Regions from separate parts of the Homo sapiens genome. Here all the other regions are reported to be linked to region 2. The links are microRNA targets in miRTarBase. Many come from high-throughput screens and were not tested one by one. Region 2 holds a microRNA gene; each other region holds the end of a gene's coding sequence.
Evidence for each region. Region 2 holds the annotated microRNA hsa-miR-3617-3p (CAUCAGCACCCUAUGUCCUUUCU, at 1,432-1,454, opposite strand). A microRNA usually pairs through its seed, bases 2 to 8, with sites in the 3' UTR of a target mRNA and lowers its output. Matches are read on the target gene's strand: a 7mer-m8 pairs with bases 2 to 8, a 7mer-A1 pairs with bases 2 to 7 and ends in A, and an 8mer does both.

Region 1 (4,193 bases), not on the chromosome of region 2:
GTTCGAGACCAGCCTGGGCAACGCAAGGAGCCCCCATTTCTACAAAAAATTAAAAAATTAGCCAGGCATGATGGCGCGCACACGTTGTCCCAGCTACTCTGGAGGCTGAGGCGGGAGGAGGATCGCTTGAGCCCAGGAGTTCGAGGCTGCAGTAAGCTGTGATTTCGGCACTGCACTCCAGCCTGGACGATAGAGCGAAACCCTGGCTCAAAAAAAGAAAAATTAAAGAAAAAAAAAGAGCATCAGCATCTTCTGTGTTTATAACGATGCAAAAGCTGACACTCCACCTTCACATGAGTAAGTCATTAGTTAAGGAAGTTTTCCCTAGAGGATTCTGGGTGTGAGGCCTGCACTTGTCTTCGTTAAGGCGTCCCCGCCAGCACGCGTCCGATTGTGGTGACCACATCCCCATTGCTACAACGGGGACATCGAAGCACAGAGGGTCGGGGCTTATAGGAGGCTGCCCTGCAAAAGACCCCTGACTCCTGTCTTTTCCTGCAGTGTACCACTGGCTGGAGATGCGGACCAAAATGCGCATCATGGGTTTCAATGCCGCTGCCATCAAGCCGCTGAACGAGGGTGCAGCCGCCGAGCTGGGCGCGGAGCTGCTGGGCGAGGGCATCATCTTCATCACCGCCTGCAGCTGCCTGATGCTGGAGTATTGGCGCCACCAGTTGCAGCAGCGCCGCAAGGAAAAGGAGCGACGTGTTGCCAGGGAGGCGCTGCGGGGCGAGGTGGGCCACTTGGGGCTGGCGCTCGAGGAGTTGCAGGCGCAGGTGCAGGCGACGTCGACGCAGCTCGCCCTGGAGGAGCTGCGCGCTCAGCTGCAGGAGGTGCGAGCCCACCTCTGCCTCCGAGACCCGCCGCCTGCACCCCCAGTTGCGCCGGCGTCCGAGAAATAGGAGGTCTCGGGGCCCTGGTCTTGGAGGTGACTGCTGTCTGGACTGCGAAGTCTCTGTCTTGGCCTATTCTCCGCACTGTCCCATCCTGGACCGGCCCAGCTGACACCACCCAGTCCTTCGGGGGCGCCGGAGAGATCCTGGGCTGGAGCTGATCGAACCTCCCTACTAACCTGCCCAGTGGTACCTTCCACTGGGACTCTCCGCCTCCTGCAGGTGGAACGTTCCAAGAAGGACCCCGCCCTATCCCACCCCGCCCCTGCCAGCGCATTTGTTGAGCACTTTGGAAAGACAGCGTCTTTTATCAGACCCCACCTCCCTACCGCTAGGTAGGCCAGCAGGACGTCCACCTCTTTTGGCAAAACAAAATTCTGCACCCGGATTTAGCCACCTCTCATTCTGTCACCCGCACCCTCACTCACCTGAGTGGACCCTTCCCCTAGGACGCTCATCCTTTGCACCGAACACCACCTACCTCCTCCTCATTGGTACAGACCATTGTAAAGATGCACAAAGTTCCTACGGACTTCCCGACCCGCCCCCTTCCATCTACCTCAGTCTTAGGGGGAAAGGTGGGGGTGAATCCTGGACTGCGTTAGCTCCAATGAGTCACCACCCTGCGGCTCCTGACCTTAATCCATCTTAGTACCTGTCATTGACATCCTCCCCTCCCTGAGTGGATCGATCCAACATAACCCCCCTCTTCTTCCACCTATGGCGCACCCCACTGGCATGGCTATGCTGGGTCTTCCAGGGAAACGCCTCCCAGCCCGGCATTCTGTGGTCTGTTCCAGCAGGACGTGGCCTTTTGGGAGGAAAAACCGGTCTTGACCAGGGCTAGTCCATTCTGGCTTTCAGGCTCAGTCACTTGGTCACCAGTCCCCAGTCCTGGACCTACTGCTACTGTCCTTTTATCCGGTCCTCCCTCGCTGTCCTCTTCAGTTGCCTTTGCTAGGGACCGGCCTGTCCCTTTACTACCTAAGTCATCGTCAGTTCGCCCAACTTCCCTCCAAATCTGCCCCTCACGGTACGCAGGGATCGCCCTTCCTTCCTGCCTTTGGACTGGTCCAGGTCCTCCTCCGCCCTCCTTCACGCAAAGGCCTCCTCCAGGGGGACTACCTGTCCCTCAGCCCAGAGGTCCCCCTGTCCAAGCGGGGTATTCCACCAGGCCATATGACCTACCCACCCGACAACTGAAGGGGGCGTGGATGAGCTCTGTGACTCTGAATGCTACTTTATAAATCGACTGTCAGCGTTTTCTAATTAAAGGAGCTCTGGGGTAAAGATCTTAAGAACGTGTCTGAGAACCATAATGTGCGTCTGCAAAATGTCATTGAAATTAGGAAAGAAGGCCGGACACAGTGGCTCACGCCTGTAATTCCAGCACTTTAAGAGGCCAAAGCAGGAGGACTGCTGGAGGCCAGGAGTTAGAGACCAACCTAGGCAACACAGCAAGACCGCATCTCTACGAAAAATGAAAATATTAGCTAGGCGTCATACCAAACGCCTGTAGTTCCAGCTACTTGGGAGGCTGAGGCAGGAGGATCCCTTGAGCCCAGGAGTTCAAGGCTGCAGTGAGCTGTGATCCTGCCACTACACTCCAGACTGGGTGAAAGAGCAAGACTCCAACTCATTAAAAAAAAAAAAAAAAAAAAAGAGGAAAGAAGCTGGGAGAGTGGTAGAGTGGGGGCAGAGAATCATCTTATGAGCCCTTTCCCAAATCAGAAACTGAGGCCTGAGGTAAGCAAATGGACTTGCCCAAGGCTACACAAAGTGAGGCTGCTTCTGGCCTCCCCTAGGGTGGTGAAGGGCAGGGTGGGATGGGGAGGAAGTGGCCTCCTAAGGGGCATGGGGAGGGAGGCTGGAGGGGGCAGAGATCATCCTGGCTGCGGGCCTGAGGATGAGTGAGCAGGCGCAATATGCAGGGTGGGAAGGAAGATGAAGGGAAGGTGGATTCCTGGGAGGAGGCAGGGGTTCTCAGCAGAGGACCAAATCTTCCTGGAGGGGCACCGGGGGCCGAGCACACCTCCATCCCCATCAGAACAGGCCTTCAAATCACTCCAGAGATCTTAGCATTTATAAAAACTGGCAGATTTATTCTGCAGGGGCCCATTTTCAAGAAGCTAAAGGTGAAGGTGGGAGGGGAGAAGTTTCCTCCCCTTCTCCTTTCTCCCTCATCTTATTTCCTCCAAGGGGTAAAAAAAATGGCCTGGACCCCAAAACCTACCCAAATAAAAAATCAAAAAACTGAGGTTCCAAAAAGTTACAGCATCTTATTTCCTCATAGAAAAGGGGAAGGAGCCAGAGGGAAGGGGAGTCCCTGGGGTGGGGGGATATCTCACCCCCAGCCCGGTGAGACATCCCCTCCCCTTAAATAGCTGCCCCAAATGGGGCAAGCCCAGGGCTATAGCATTTAAAAACTCCCACATCCCATTTTATCAAAACCAAAGAGAAAAAAAAATTTCCCTTTTCCCCCAAAACCCAAATATATATATATTTTTTTTTCTTAAAAAAACCAAAACTTTGAAGGCATTAAGCGTTAAAGTGAATCTAGAACAAGGGAATGTGAAATTCCCTCCTTCCTTCCCCCTTCCTGTGGGGTTCATTGGTGCATCCCCAGCAGAGGGACCGGCCCCAAGGGGATGGCAGAGGGGAAGGACCAAAGGGAGAAAAGGGCGGGGGCCTCCCCAGCCAATCAGCAGCCAGTGTGGGTGTGAGCAGGGAAGCCACACCCCCTTGGAGTTTTCCAAGTGGGATGGGGAGTGGGAACGATGCATTCCTGTGTAGTCTTCAGCCAATTCCAAGTCAAGTAGAGGCAGGGAAAGCAGGGTGACAGGCCGGGTGTGCGGAAAGGAGAAGCGGGTCTTCTGGGTCCCTGTGGTCAGGGAGAACCCCGCTTCCTCAGCTCCTGGACGAAGGCTGGAAGGAAACAAGGAGCAGAGGTCAGGGGCAGAGTCTCTGCCTCCTCCCTTCCAAAACAGGGCTCTTGCCCAGGGACATGATGCCTCCAAAATAAGTAAATGTTTAAGAACAAAACCAAAGCAAACCACCTCACCTTCAATGATTTCCTCTTTCACTTTCTGCAATTCCTTCTTCACCTCTTCCAGAAGCTCCTAAAATTAATGGGGTAAAACTAATCAGGAGGGGGTACCGGGACTTGCAGGAATGAATCCCCCTTCTTTTATTTTTTGAGAAGGAACCTTGCTCTGTTGCCCAGGCTAGGGTGCAATGGCATGATCACAGCTCATTGCAGCCTCAACTTCCCAGGCTCAGGTAATCCTCCTGCCTTAGCCT
Region 2 (4,193 bases):
GGCAGGTAGGTCTTAGCTTTGAACTGAAATACTTGGGGGTAGGGGAGGAAATAGGAAGTCAACATAATGATGCTTATTCTTCTCTAACAGTAGAAAGTGGGGCATCCTGGTGCTCTGGCCTCCTGATCGAGAGACACCAAGGAAGAAAAAAGCTGAATCTTTGAACGCCATTCTGAAATCCCCACCCTTCTTACCATGAAAGAAGTCACTCCCAGAACTTACTTGTGAATTGGGTCCCAGCTCTCTGATCCAGTACCTTCAGTTTAATGCATGGTCTTCATCCTTTACCAAAACTTACCTTTCACTCATTCTTCCTGTACACAAATAACCCATGTTAGGTTAACCCCAGGGTAAACTATGTTGTTAATGAGAAGCTCTACAACTTGCTCAAGACCACACAATGAATCAGTGCAGAACGAACATACAAACCTCTTTCTTGTTCACCACATACACCATTGATACCCTTGATATGGACACAACCATAGTCAATGGGGGCTTGGCATCTGAACTACAAGGATGGTGAATGACCAATGGGTGCAGGGTTCTACCAAACTCTGTTCTTGATCAAAAAATATCCATGCCCTGCTTCCCTGCTCAGAACTCAGAGGAAGGCAGCAGCTGAGGACAAAACCTGATGCCACCACCCTGGAACCATGCAAGGCAGATGAGGGTGGCAGGTTTCCTGGCAGTTCCCTGGGCTTTCTGAGTTCTGAACATTACTCCAGCCTGTTGGTGAGGCCCTTCTCTTACTTGTTCTGTGTTCCAGAGTATATCTTGGAACCTCCACCCTGCATATCAGCACCTGAAAACTGTACTCACCTGTGTACAATGCAGGAAGATTGCGAGAAAGGATTTCAGTGCTGTTCCTCCTTCTGTGGGATAGTCTGTTCATCAGAAACATTTCAAAAGCGCAACAGGTAAGAGATATCTCATATCCAGGTCTGATCCTAGAGCTGCTGGTGGGAGCCCAGCAGAAGAGTCCCTTACCAGCAACTGTGCTGGATCTCTCCTTTTTTTTTTTTTTCCTTGGTGGCCATGTTGCCAACATGCCCCTTCTCTTGACCAAGGATAATTTCCATAAAAGTCCTGATTAGAAAAGCCCTCCTCCCCTCCCAATCACCACATCCCATCACCATATCCGTGAATTTCTGACTCTGCCTCTCTGAACACACCCACAAATGCCTTTATCCACAGACCTTCCCCCGACCCAGAATCCACCCTTATCCCAGGGACACTGTACCTGCAGGTGTAACCAAAATCCCAAAGCAAAATTTGTCCTACACTTTTGCTTGCCCTCCTTTCACAAGACACCATCCTTTGGCCACCAGTGTTCTTGGGCTCTGGAGATCCAGCCCAAAGGAAGTTTTGATTAATTGTCCAGACATTAACACTAGCCGCAAGCCTGCTAAATGGAGTGTGCTCCCAGGGCAGAGAAAGGACATAGGGTGCTGATGAGACATATGGTTTCTAATCCCATCTTGCAACTATGTCTTTCTATGACCTTGAGTAAGACAATTCCCTCTTTTTTACTTTCTTTTTCTCATGAGTAAAATAAGTACTCTTGTTTTTTCCTGCTTTGCAAGGCCCATATGAAATTTCAAAAGACTCACAGTGGAAGACTCAACCAATGAGCCCTTTGAGGGAAGCCTGGCAGTCTTGTTCCCTGCTGTATTCCCTACCATGAGCAGAATACCCAGCATGAGATAATGTGCAGAGTGATTAAGCATGGGCTCAAAGCCAAACACCTGGGCTCAAATCCTGGCTTCTTAGCTAAGTGACCTTAAGTGATCTTAGACAAGCTAATTAACCTCTCTCTGGGCATCAACTTCCTCATCCTTAAGACTGGAACAATAATAGTGAGGTTAAAATAGACAATCCATGTAAGCTTTAAAACATTACTTGCCAACATAATTGCTGTGAATTTTGGGGATTAGGCAACCACTTCTCTTTGAAGAGACTAGCCCTTGCAATTAAATTCCACATCTTTCAATGCTCTACATTGGAATGCAGAAGCATAAATATAACTCTTTGGTGTCATTGAGTTTTTTGAGGTTCTGCCTTCCCTATGGCAAGAGAAATGAGCTTCATGGTCTAATATTAATGGTGGAAGTAATTGAAAGAAAAATATATATCTCTAAAAGTAAAACTTCACTAGTTAATATTTGAAAATATTTTTCTTCTACAGAATCAAACACAAGGGCTCAGAAGTCATCATGCCTGCCAACTGAGGCATATTTCCTAGATCATTTTGTAAGTACAGGGATTTGGTCTCGCCTTCCTCATGTGAGATTCCCAGGGATGCTCACTTTCTTCCTGTAGCCTCACCAGGGGCACTACATTCCCACAAGCTCAGAATGGCCTCTCATTACCTGATTGCCTCCTCCTCCATCATTCCCCTCCAAGGGCTATCTTTGCACTCCCTGGGGGAGGCACGGTGCAGTCCAGCATGAATTCTGCAACACAGAGCAATGTAAGGAACCAAGTCATGGCCCAGGGGGAACCCAGGGCACTCAGATCTGAGGCTTTGTCAAGGAACAAGCTCTTCTAGCCTCCGGGTTGACAGCACCCTGGGCAGGGACTCAAGCTGAGCCCTTCACGCTCTGAGACTTTGGTCTGCTCACTGTACCTCTCTGAGACAGTCACCTCCCTCATGTGAAATATGAAGAAAACATCCATGCCTTGGGGTATTGGGAGGACAACACAAGGCCATGTAGATGGAAGAACTTGGTCTCTGCAAAGGTAGAAACTGCCAGCAACTCACTTACAAGGTCACTCATTCAGGTTCCAGTTTTTTCTCTGAAAAAAGAGGGAGTGGGCCGGGTATGGTGACTCACACCTGTAACCCCAGCACTTTCGGAGGCCAAGGTGGACGGATCACGAGGTCAGGAGTTCAAGACCAGCCTGACCAACAGAGTGAAACCCTGTCTCTACTAAAAATACAAAAATTAGTTGGGTGTGATGGTGCACACCTGGAATCCCAGCTACTCAGGAGGCTGAAGCAGGAGAATTGCTTGAACCCAGGAGGCAGAGGTTGCAGTGAGCCAAGAGTGCACCATTGCACTCCAGCCTGGGCGACAGAGTGAGACTCCGTCTCAAAAAAAAAAAAAGAGGGAGTGGGAATCATCTTTATTATTTTACTGATGCTTCAAGAATGGTGAACAAAATGGAGTCCTGTGGAATTCCACCACCAAAAAAATGATAGTATTCATAAGTTGGTGGATTTCGTTTCAGAGTATTTGAAAGAAAAAGTTAGAAGTTTAGGGTCTTCTAATGGGCCTTCTGATGTCTCCAGATGTTCCAAATTAGAATGGTGGTCTTTCAGCTTAGTCCTTTTATTAACCCTGTACAAAGGAGCGTGATAAATAGTAGCAGGTGGAGGCCAGTGGAGCAGTTTAGACGCATGAGCACTTGCCCAGGCTCCGGTGAGCCCACCATGCTGCGGATGAGCTCCCACTCATGCTTCAAGGTTTCTATTAAATTAAACACTCCATAGAAACTTCACCAGTTCACTCCAGACAGAATTAGTCCCTCTCTTTGTCTTTTGTAGTGTCCTATCTTTGGCCTACCATAACCTAGTGACCCCTGATCCAGGGCAGGAAATACTGTTCAGAAAAATCTATAGACTCTTTTACTACCAGAAACTGACCATATGTGGTTCGAGTTGACCTGAGTGAGGCAGGTCTCTTACATACAGGTTGGCTATCACTGTTTTAATAATCTGAGTTTGATCTATCCAATACTGTAGGCACTGGTCACGAGAGGCTATTTAAATGTTAATTCATATGAATTACAATAAAATAAAATATTCAATCAGTTCCTTAGCCTTATTTTCCATTTCAAGTGTTTAATAACCACATGTGGTTAGTAGCTACCATATTACACATTATAAATACAGAACACAGAAAGTTCTAATGGAAAGCATTGCTTTAAGCTACATAAAGCTGATGTCTAAAAAATGATGGCTAATTAAAGGTGATCATGACAGAGGACACCCTCTATGACAGCCTCATGTTAGACTCCAGGAAAAGTTTTTGGGGGCTATTTCTTTAAGGAGTTCCTAAGCATAGCCTGACAACAGACAGTTCAATGACAGTAATTCTCTAGAGACCCAACATGATGTCCAAGGATGTTTAAAGAATCAAGAAGAATAAATGGACTAATTATCTTTCCTTCCCCACAGGCCTCTACGATGT
Region 3 (4,193 bases), not on the chromosome of region 2:
GTTTACTTGAGAGGTCAACCAATCATTTCAGCAGTGTAGTTGTAACTAAGTTAAATAGCTGCTAAATAGCTACTGGCTATTCAGTTAGAAAGGGGGTGAGGATGACAGGCTGTGCAGAACCTGAACAGGGTTAAAGCTACAATGAGAAGCCATAATTTTGTGAGTTTTGCTGAGACCAATTCTCCATCCTGTCATAATTAGAGAACCCGATGCTGATTATTTTTTAAGTTCCTAAAATTGATCTTTTTTCTTTTCTTTTTTTAGGTACACAACAAAACATTTGAATGATGAGACTACCTCCAAGCAAATTAAATCCATGCTGCAATAACAATTCTGGAATAAGCACCTGCTGTAGACAGAAGACAGTATTCTGCAATGACTGAGAATGCAGTTTTTTAGTGATTGCAATTACTATCTCATTTATTCTTGCTTTTATTTCTTTCCTCTGTTCCTCTTCCCTCTTTTTTAATCATGTTCTTAAGACTTCTTTTCTGTGCCAAAATCAGTAAAGTTACACTCTGAAGGGATATCATCCTTTCAAACGGGCCATCTAAGGCAGCTAATTATGCATTGCATTGGGGTCTCTACTGAGAAAAATTCTGTGACTTGAACTAAATATTTTTAAATGTGGATTTTTTTTGAAACTAATATTTAATATTGCTTCTCCTGCATGGCAAAACTGCCTATTCTGCTATTTAAAAACCCTCAATGACTTTATTTTCTACTGCCGCCTTTTTCATGTGCAACCAAAATGAAAATGTTTAAATTAACTGTGTTGTACAAATGGTACCCAACACAAACTTTTTTTAAATTAGTAATACTTTTGTTTAAAGTTTTAAGTTTGCATTTTGACTTTTTTTGTAAGGATGTATGTTGTGTGTTTAACCTTTATTAACTAACGTTAAAAGCTGTGATGTGTGCGTAGAATATTACGTATGCATGTTCATGTCTAAAGAATGGCTGTTGATGATAAAATAAAAATCAGCTTTCATTTTTCTAAGTGTGGCTTGGTTTACTGATGTTTTGTTTTTAGGCTTCTGAAGTTTTCCCCATGTATGTTTTTATGGAATGCATATATACATTACATGATTTTTTCTTCTTTTAGGGGAGAGCCGGGTCTTTTCATTAGAATTTTGATCATTGTCTATGTATATACTTTTAATTGCCTTTAAAATTTTGCTAAGTATATTAAGACCAGTGATCTTTTCATTAACTGGACTTTTATTCTTGATTTACTCTTGTATGGATGTAGTAATGGAAGGAAAACCGCATCCTTGCTTGATTCTCCATTTCCAGGGGAGCGGGTAGCAACATGAAGGCAGAGTAGCCCTTTAATCATGGGAAGAGAGTGATTATAAGAGGGACTTCCCAGGAGAAAAGCAGAGGCCATGATCTCACTAGTGGTAGAAAACTAACAGGTTTCAGTTTAAGATCATAAAACCTAAATCATGAAATCTAAATCTCATGGTTGGAACAAACTACTTAAAGGTTGTCTAGTTCAACCATGCCAGTGTTTTAAATATTTAGGAATATCCGAGGTATAATACAATTAAAATGTTTAACCATGGAAGAGAATCACAGAGGCTTCCATCAGACCCTTCTGGATTAATAGGGCCAGATCATGGCACACACAGCTTCTCAAGATCACATCCCTGCTGATCTCTCTGGCCCTCCTGATCACTGCTCCCCCACTTCACACCCTGTCCTGCAGCCAGGCCCTACTGCTTGCTGTTCACAAATTGTTCCATGTGATGTCACTTCCTTAGCTCTGGTCTGGCTGGTCCCTGAACCTGACATTCCCTTCCTCCCCTTGTGACCCTCTAATGAACGCCAACTTTCATCTTTGAAGGGTTAGCTTCTATTACCTCCTTCATGAAGCCTTCTGGATAACATTGGCCATATCCTTCTAGGCATCTTCTAAGAATAGTGTAATAGGCTGAATAGTGGCCCCCAGGAGATACATTCACTGGGAATCTCCACGTGTGACATTATTTGGAAAAAGTTTTTGCAGATGAAATCAAGGACCTGGAAATGAGATCAACCTGTAGTAGGGTGGGCCCTAAATTCAATGACTAGCTCTTAGAAAAGAAGGGGAAATAGACACACAGAGCTGAAGGCCATGGGAAGATGGAGGCAGAGATTAGAGCAATGCATCTATGAGCCAAAGAACCCTAAGAATTGGAGGAAGTCACTAGAAGCTAGGAAAACAGGCATGTCACAGATTCTCCCTCAGAGTCTCGAGAAGGAACCAACCCTACCAATATCTTGATTTCAGACATCTGGCCTCCAGGATTGTGAGGGAATAAATTTCTGTTGTTTTAAGCCATGCAGTTTGTGGTATTTTGGTACAGCAGCCTTAAGAATCTGATACATGTATCTCGTAAAACACCTCTGATACTTACCTGCGCTTGTGGCTGTGTTTTCTGATACTATGAGAGCCGTAGTATCTGGATACCGGAGAGTCTGCGAACTTGAGAGAAGGGCCGTGTCTGATTTTCCTTCAGTGTCCCAAGGAAGGATCTTGCACAGTACCCAGATTTGGAGAGGTGCCAAGTGAATGCTTCGGTGGACTGAATGAATACAAATCAAAAATAATGATGCAGCGGGAATGGATGCAGTAAGATTGCTGTGGCCTATGCAGTTCACACAGTTCACACTCTGCATGTTGAGGAGTAAGTGGACAGATCTCTTAAGCCCAGGGGCTAGCAAACCGGTCTGTGGGCCAATTTACTCACCGTCTGTTTTTGTACAGCTTGTGAGCTAAAAATGGTTTTTAAAAAGGTTGAATACAATCAAAAGAATAATATTTTGTGGCATGAGAAAAGCATATGAAATTCAAATTTTAGTGTTCATAAATAAAATTTTATTGGAACCTAAGCCTCACTCATTTGTTGACACATTATTTATCGAGACTTTTGCATGACAGCAGCAGAATTGAGTTGTGACAAAGACCATATGGCCCTCAAAAGCTAAAATATATTTACTATCTGGCCCTTTCCAGAAAGAATTTTCCTCTCCTTCCACTAGATCCAAGAGTAGGTTTATCTGAGAACCTAGTGTGATTGAAGCTGAGGGCTGCAGTGTGATCAAAGGAGACAGCTCTGCTGCCAAAAGATGATTCAACCTCAGAGCTAGTACTTGCCAGTCAGATAGCCAAAGAGAGCAAGCAGGCATCTTCTCTGCCAACTCTATCTGTAGTTCTCATGTCTGTCCTTGGAGTGAAGTATTATGGGGGGTAGGCATGGACTTAGCCAGTGTATTAGTCCATTTGCACACTACTAATAAATACCCCAATACTGGGCAATTTATGAAAGAGAGGTTTAATTGACTTACAGTTCCATGTGGCTGGGGAGGCCTCACAATCATGGGAGAAGGTGAAAGGCACATCTCACTTGGTGGCAGATGAGAGGAGAGCTTTTGCAGGAAAAGTCCCCCTTAAAATAACCATCAGATCTCATGACACTTACTGTCATGAGAACAGCACGGGAAAGACCTGCCCTCATTATTCAGTTACTTCCAACTGGGTCCCTCCCACAACACGTGGGAATTCAAGATGAGATTTGGGTGGGGACGCAACCAAACCATATCAGCTGGGATTAATTACTGCCCACTGGAGGGAGGTATGAGTCTGCTCTGGTGTAGGTAAATCCTTTGAACCCCAGTCTAGTCTCTAAAACGCACCTGGTTAGTGTGCCTATGCCCCAGCCTTTCTTCACAATTTAGAGAAATCCATTGCCTCATCTCTTCCACCAAACATGCCCATAATTAACTCACCACTGCCCCATTTCCACAGCCCTCAACATAGATAAGTGGAACTTTTCAACTGGCTGGCTTCTCACTTTAAAGATTTGGGCTAAGAAGCATTCTGGACCATTTTAAGATTGCTGCAAGTATTTTAGACTTGTCATAAGGATTAATGACATTTGTACTCAAATCTAGGTCTTTTGAGTTGAAATGTCCTTCTGGTTCCATTTGAGATTGCAGTTAACTGCAGTTTTGAAGTTCTTACTGTTCGAAGCATATTTTAAACTTCAGAGTAAGATTCAATCATAGAAGGTACAATGCGAAGATCTGTGGGTCAAGGGTCAGGAGACCCAAGCCATATCTCTTCTTTGAAACTCTATTTTCCTCATCAGTACAATGAGAAAATTGAAACAGATGATCTCTAACACTGATTCCATGTCTCATATACT

Region 1: miRTarBase lists VASP as a target of hsa-miR-3617-3p. Seed matches in the 3' UTR shown: 7mer-m8 at 3,594-3,600.
Region 3: the mRNA of CYRIB is a reported target of hsa-miR-3617-3p. Seed matches in the 3' UTR shown: 7mer-m8 at 1,654-1,660.

What each region holds. Positions count from the first base shown.
Region 1 is chr19:45,525,765-45,529,957 of GRCh38, reverse strand. VASP (vasodilator stimulated phosphoprotein) reads right to left here. Exons shown (of 13, transcript NM_003370.4): 12 at 3,955-4,012; 13 at 2,975-3,818. The coding sequence ends at 3,781. It also overlaps a transcript of OPA3 not described here. Among named protein-coding and RNA genes, the nearest start is that of VASP, 20 kb to the right of the region's middle.
Region 2 is chr20:45,703,678-45,707,870 of GRCh38, forward strand. MIR3617 (microRNA 3617) reads right to left here and starts at 1,503; the gene lies at 1,425-1,503. It overlaps WFDC10B (WAP four-disulfide core domain 10B), which reads right to left and starts at 1,342. Exons shown (of 4, transcript NM_172006.2): 1 at 1,241-1,342; 2 at 820-884. WFDC13 (WAP four-disulfide core domain 13) reads left to right here. Exons shown (of 4, transcript NM_172005.2): 2 at 767-917; 3 at 2,186-2,250; 4 at 4,181-4,193. The coding sequence ends at 2,228.
Region 3 is chr8:129,838,277-129,842,469 of GRCh38, reverse strand. It overlaps CYRIB (CYFIP related Rac1 interactor B), which reads left to right. Exons shown (of 14, transcript NM_001353258.2): 14 at 265-2,877. The coding sequence ends at 328. Among named protein-coding and RNA genes, the nearest start is that of GSDMC, 54 kb to the right of the region's middle.